Linked DNA regions of Homo sapiens. The protein of the gene in region 1 interacts with the protein of each later gene in a pairwise test. Each region holds a gene or a part of one and is shown on either strand. Other genes may lie near its edges.

Region 1 (3,655 bases):
CAGGGACACAGTAGTGAATGCAGCAGTCAAGCACTCCTGTCCTCGAGGAGCTTACATTCTGGGGGCTTCCCTCTGGCCAAGGCCCCAGTCAGACCCCAGGAGAGCATGATGGTCACTTCTCAGTACGGTGCCCACCAAGCTGCACTCTGCCTGGACCCAAGGGGAAAAGCACTGCCCCACAAGCCTGCTTTCAGAGCCACGTGCTGGGCAGGAGGCGTTCGGGTGAGTTATGTTCAATTCATACATGGAAGACTTTGAAAAACACATTACCTCTTCAAAAGTCACCTGACATTGTCACAAAGCTTTAAAACAGTCAAATCACCAAAGGAGTTCTAACTTTGCAGAACCTATTTTAAGCAAAAGGAGATCTGGGCCAAGACTGTGTAAAAGATGATAGAAACAAATACAATATAAGAAAGCACTGAAATTTATGACACTTGGGCTGGGCCTGGTGGCTCATGCCTGTAATCCCAGCACTTTGGGAGGCTGAGGCGGGCAGATCACCTGAGGTCCGGAGTTCAAGACCAGCCTGGCCAACATGGTGAAACCCCATCTCTACTAAAAATACAAAAAAACTTAGGCAGGCGTGGTGGTGCATATCTGTAATCCCAGCTACTCAGGAAGCTGAGGCAGGAGAATCACTTGAACCCGGGAGGCAGAGGTTGCAGTGAGCCAAGATTGCACCACTGTACTCCAGCCTGGGTAACGGAGTGAAACGCTGTCTCAAAAAAAATAAAAATAAATAAATAAGCTTATGACACTTGAATGAAATTATATGATGCCTGAGATTTACTTCGAAATAACCTGGGGTGGGGAGAGGGTGAAGGTTAATATTTATTGAACCTGAGGGATGAATAAAGGAGTGCTCATTATAGCATTTAAACATTTATGTATTATATATTTGGAAATTCCATAATATAAAGCTTAACCATTATGGCACATCCATATGATAGAATACTATGGTCATTGGAATTTTAGAACTTTAACATGAAAGAAACTTAAAATATCATGTACAGTTAAAAAAAGGGATTCTGAAACTGTATATACGGTTAGATCCCAATTATACTTTTATATATGAAGAAAACATTAAAACATCAGCCATGATTATCTTCCAGTTTTAGGGTAATGGGCAATTTATTTTATTCTTTGTCCTTTTCTGTATTTTCAAAATCTGAAAAACATTAAATGAAGACTCTGGATAAAGAGAACAGACGTCTCTACCTGGAAGAACTGGAGCTGCTTCTCTAGGCTCCAGAAGAACGGGTGTTTGAGCACATGCTTCGCTGAGGGGCGTTTCTGAGGATCCATCGCAATCATCTTCTCTATCAATTCACGTGCAATGACGTCTTCTATAAAGGAGGAAAATAAGCAACTCATGACTACCAGTCCAAAGCCACAGTGAAATACCAAAAACTTTAAAAAGCTGCACACCCTCTCATTTATGATTCTATTTACAGGAATTTATTCCAATAAAATAATTAGGAACAGACACAAAACCTCAGCCAAAGAGGTGAGTCCTCACTGCATGGTTTGTGAAGGAAGTGACTGTAAACATCCAGTATCAGAGGCCCAAGTGGATACACTACGGTGCCTCCCTACGCTGGGCCATGAGCTGTTAAAGTGCGGCTGTGACTAAATATGGATTGACGTGGAGAGAGATTCAAGGTGACGCTGAAAAACGTGCATGCTGCAAAACAGTATGCAGGATTTAACTGTATTTTTATAAAATATGCAATCACGTCTAGATAAATGACTGGAATAACGTATATGCAAAGGTATCAATAGCCATCATTCATCCCTGTATAATGGGAATATATGGGCCTTTATGCTAATCTGTGTTTTCTATAATAAGAAAAATTAAGCATAAACAAAACAATAATTTAGTTGTAATTTTTTCAAAAGGCAGCACTGGAGTGTCATGGGCCAATTACCACCCAGGAAAACCTGAAGTCTGGAAGAAAGACTTGTTGCACCCATACCAGGAGACCAGGAGGGTGAGGATAAAGCTTGTCTGTCCCCAGCCCAGCACAGACTGCACCTACTGACCACTCGCCATCCCAAGAGAGAAGACAATTTGTCTTCCCAAATGCCAGTGCAGGAAGGGACCTCTGATTATTCAACCCTCATGTCACCAGGTAGAAAAAGAAGGTCTCCAAAGGGGGCTTTGCCTAGGTCACACAAGTAGTTGGTGACCTGGAGGAACCTTGGAGCATCTCAGCTTTAGAAGGTGGCGCCCCAGAGATAACCCTACCAACCCTCTACCAGATTTGGCACAAGTCTGGAGGTCCTGAGGCCTGCGGGGTGAGCAGCTGGGGCACCACGGCCTCTGTGAGTGCAAAGGTGGCACCAGCCCAGCTCTGCAGGGCCACCTGAGGCAGCTGAGGAGCTGCTCCCAACCCCAACCCCTGGACCGCTCACCGTGCTTCTCTGGGTGCAAGCAGTCAAGGCTGCAGGCACCCAGGAGGATGTTGGCCTGCCGCTGCAGGGACTTGCCAAAAGGGTGGCTGCCCTCAGAGATTACGTAGTAAAAGACGCAGCCTGCAGAAAAGATGTCCACCGTGTAGGTCTGAAAAGAGACATGAGGCGTGAGAGGTCTGGGAGCAGAGTTTTCATCCTCACTCACAGTCAGGGAGGGAGGAGCATTGCTGCTGCTTCTGCCACCTAGAAGGTGTCCTGGGAGAATCAGCTGACATATGTGAGCTGCACAGAGCAGCGAGGGCTAACCTGCAGCACTGCATGGGTGTCAGAGGTCCCAGTGGAGAACCTGGGCTTGGAGCCACCTGGAAGCCCCTGGTTCCCTCTCATGTGAGATGAGGACACTGACAGCATGGGGCTGTTGTCAAAAGAGATGCATTAATATGCAAAAATGGTTGCTTACGACAGTGCTTGGCCCATCAAAAGCCCTCCTGGCTGTTATATATTCCTTACCCCCAACACGAAAGTGCTCACAGACAGGGTCTCTGTGTCGTTGCTTCCCTGCTGTACCCCCAGGGCCCAGAATGGTGCCTGCACACAGTAGGTATCAAAATTGCTAATAAGTGAATAAAACAGCTTATGATTCAAAAACAGCCCTAGAAAGAAACTATCTGACAAGTTACCAAGGAGGTCATGTTTGATGTTAATCCGAGAAAGCCTCTCACTTATCCCATGAAACCATTCTGTGTCTACAGAATAGCTTCCTTCGAGGGAAATGTACGTTTGTGTTTTTTAGCTCATGCTACCTGGGGTGTAATACCAAGGTGGTTCCTGAGCACAGCTTGGGTCCCTGTTAGTAGGCCCTGCCTCTGAGATTCTCCACCAGGTGAAGTGAGGGTCTAGTGTGAGGAAGCAGGGGCTCATCACCTCCCATGCTGGAGGAGACACACCTTGAACAACACAGCACTCTCATTCAGCCTCACAACAACCTTGTGAGGCGAGCAGAGCAAATGCTTTCATCCCCAGATGAGAACGTGGACAGAAAGGTTGCATGACAAGCTCAGGGTCACTGCTGGATGTGATAAACCAGGATGGGACTCAGGTCTTCCAATCTCCAAACCTACCATGCTTTATTCTACCTCACTGGATTTTCCCTTAGGAAGGTGCTGGATTCGGGACAGGAGGAACATGGCCACCACAGCTGGAGCTCGCCCCTGACTCCCAGAGCTCTCTGGGTCTT
Region 2 (3,655 bases), on another chromosome or scaffold:
GAACTGGACTAATACCCCTCATCCCAATTATTTTTTAATCTGGAGGATACGATTGCTATATAGCTGAGGTATAAATTTCTCCCCAGGGAATCTTATCTAGATAGGGAGACATATGTAAAGACGAAGGTAACACTACAAAGCAGTAAATGCCATATACTATAGAACAGTGGTTCCAAAATTTTAGCACACCTGAAAATCACCTAGGAAACTTGTTTAAAATGCAGCCTTTAACCCAAGAAATTCTGTTTCAGAAGATCTCTAATAGTTCCCAGAACCAGTAATTTTTATAAACTTTCCAGTTGATTATGATATAGGTGGTCTAAGGAGAACACCTAGAAATAGACTATGGTGGCCAGGCGCAGTGGCTCATGCTTGTAATCCCAGCACTTTGGGAGGCCGAGGCAGGTGGATCACCTGACATCAGGAGTTCAAGACCAGCCTGATCAACATGGTGAAATCCCGTCTCCACTAAAAATACAAAATTAGCTGGGCATGGTGGCACATGCCTGTAATCCCAGCTACTCAGGAGGCTGAGGCAGGAGAATCGCTTGAACCTGGGAGGCAGAGATTGCAGTGAGCCGAGATCGCACCATTGCACTCCAGCCTGGGCAACAAGAGCGAAACTCTGTCTCAAAAAAAAAAAAAATATATATATATATATAGACTATGGTAAAAGATATCACAAGATAATGTCAGGAGGAAGAAAAAGAGGCAATGGTGTGATGTCAGTATAAGGTGTTACTTTTAGGGGGAAAATCTCCCAAACAACACTTCTGAGATAACATGTTTGTTTAAGCTATTAAGTACAATATGGGGCCTTGGTATAATTTCTGGATATCTCACCAAAACAGGTATCAGCCCAAAGGGCTGGCCACTATGTATCAATAGCTGATGGACCCATAACACTGCATGATCAGTTCTAATGCTTGTTTGTTTTTAGACAGACCATCCAATTTCCTGGATGTAGACATTCAGGAGGTAGAAAATGGGAAACATACATTTAGAGACAAATAACCATATAAGGGAGCGAACCGTTCACCAAATAACTTACTCTGCCCCACATTTCAGTGCCCCGATGCGTTTAGGTAGAGCCATGTTCTGACTGATAGATTGTGAGCAGAGATGATATGTGCCACTTTAAAAAGAAGCATTTAAGGAGCTGATGTGAAAAACCTTCCAGCATTTTCTCTTTACCCTTCTATGGCAATCTTAGAAGCCACAGGTTGAGATGGAAAGGTCACAGATAAAAGCAGACAGCATCCTTGGAAAGGAGCTGTCCTGGAGAGCTGCTGGATCCACAGTGGACTTTACAAGAGAAAGGAGCAAACTTTAGTGCTTAAGCTGCAGAGATTTCAGGGACTGTTACTGCGGCAGAATCTATCCTATTCTGACTAATACAATATGCTGTACTGTGGGAAGAGCTACACAATAGAAAATTGTATTTTCAGATCTATTTCCCTACCACCTACAATCATAGATGGCATTTTGTTCTGTGGCAACAGCTAGGCCTTTAGGGAACTCCACCAATATCCTGGTTATGGCTGATGGATAACAGTCAACCATTATTTAAAGATATTTTGATTGATTTTTTGATATAATAATGCGTTGCATTCCAGTTTAAAATGGCAGCTGGTTGGCAGTCCCTGAGCCTACCACTTCATCTCATCCAAGAAATAATGAGTGGGGGCCAGGAGTGGTGGCTCACACCTGTAATCCCAGCACTTTGGGAGGCCGAGGCGGGTGGATCATCTGAGGTCAGGAGTTGGAGACCAGCCTGGCCAACATGGTGAAACCCTGTCTCTACTAAAAGACAAGAATTAGCCGGCAGTGGTGGCACATGCCTGTAATCCCAGGAGGCTGAGACATGAGAATTGCTTGAACTCAGTGGGCGGAGGTTGCAGTGAGCCAAGGTCACGCTACTGCACTCCAGCCTGGGTGACAGAGCGAGACTCTGTCTAAAAAAAAAAGAAAGAAAGAAAGAAAGAGAAAAGAAAAGAAGAAAAAGAAAAAGAAAGAAAGAAAGACAGAAAGAAAAAAAGAAAGAAAGAAAAGAAAGAAAGAGTGGGGAGAGAATTTCACAAAGGAAGAAGTATCCAGTGTCAAGCTTGACAGTATCAAGTGCTGCAGTGAGATCAAGGAAGAGAAGAAATGGAAAAAGACCATTGCGTTTGATGTTTAAAGAAGTCACTGTACATCACCTAAGAAGTAATCATATACTAAAACGAATCAAGCCTGTAGACCCAACTACCACTTCACAGGAAATACACAGGAAAGAGGAACCTGTTAAATGATACCAAGCAATGTAATCAGCAAAGTCCTGATCATGGTGAATACTGCAGGATAAGGCCTAGTTTCTTCACCATACAAATTGCAAGAAAAAAGGAGGGAGAAAGAAACTTAACAGACATACCAACCAATTTCAATCTGTGGGCCTTACTTGGATCCTGATCCAAACAAACTAAATATTTTTAAATTGTGGCATTTATGAGACAATGGGATATTTGGACACTGACTATATTAAGGAATTACTGTTAATTTTTAAAATATGATATTATGATATGGAATTGTGGTTATGTTAATAAAATAATCCTTATCTATCAGAGGCACATATGATATATTTAGAGATGAAATAATATGATGTCTGAAATTTGCTTTGAAATAATCCCTGGGAGGAGGAGTAATGATGAAACAAGTTAGCCAGGTGTTGATCATTATTGAAGCTAAGTGGATGAGTACATCGGGTTTCATTTTGCTATTGTTTGAAAATTTACCTAATAAGTTTTTCTTTAAAAAAATATGAAATATGGGTTACCACTGGAGTTGGAGGAGGAAAGATGGAATATTCGGGGAAGAGGATATTGGAGCCTTCAAATATAAAGTTAGAATTTTATTTCTTAAGTGGAGTAAAAGAACGCAAGTATTTGTGATATTTCATTTTATATAGTCAACAAATGTTTCATAAATATATCATTGCATTTACTCAGTATTTATAAAACCCTAAAGGAAGAAGGGAAAGAAGAAATGAAAGGATGGAGAGAGGGAGGGAGGAAAGGAAAAAGGAAGGAAGGAGGGAAGGAAGGAAGGAGGGAAGGAGGGAAGGAAGGAAGGAGGGAAGGAGGGAAGGAAGGAAGGAAAGAAAGAAAAAGAAGAGGAAAGGAGAAGAAAGAAAAAGAAAGGAAAGGAGAGGGAAGAATCATAAACATAAAATTCAGGATAAGGTGGTTTACTTTTGAGCCAGGAGGGCAGTGATAAGTCAAGATTGAGATTTAGGTCATTATGATAATCCCATTTACTTTTGATAGGTACTTGCAGCTCAAGAGTGCAGGGTAGGCTGGCTGCAGTGGCTCACACCTGTAATACCAGCACTTTGAGAGGCCAAGGCCGGCTAATCGCTTGGGCCCAGGAGTTTGAGACTGGCCTGGGCAACATGGAGAAACCCTGTCTCTACTAAAAATAGAAAAATCAGCCGGGCATGGTGGCACATGCCTCTAGTCCCAGCAACTTAGAGGCTGAGGTTAGAGGATTGCTTGAGCCTGGGGCTGGGGGGCTGGCATTCGGAACTGCAGTGAGCCAAGATGGTGGCACTGCACTCCAGCCTGGGCCACAGAGCAAGACCTTGTCTTAAAAAAAAAAAAAGTGCTGGGCACGGTGGCTT

What was found.
Region 2: the proteins of ERN1 (region 1) and SPATS1 interact in binary tests that used the Homo sapiens proteins (3 or more experiments, as listed by UniProt).

What each region holds. Positions count from the first base shown.
Region 1 is NC_000017.11:64,046,637-64,050,291, forward strand, and holds part of ERN1 (serine/threonine-protein kinase/endoribonuclease IRE1 precursor), read right to left. Parts: intron 2,567-3,655; coding exon 2,419-2,566; intron 1,350-2,418; coding exon 1,222-1,349; intron 1-1,221. UniProt on the Homo sapiens protein: Serine/threonine-protein kinase and endoribonuclease that acts as a key sensor for the endoplasmic reticulum unfolded protein response (UPR).
Region 2 is NC_000006.12:44,363,119-44,366,773, reverse strand, and holds part of SPATS1 (spermatogenesis-associated serine-rich protein 1), read right to left. Parts: intron 1-3,655.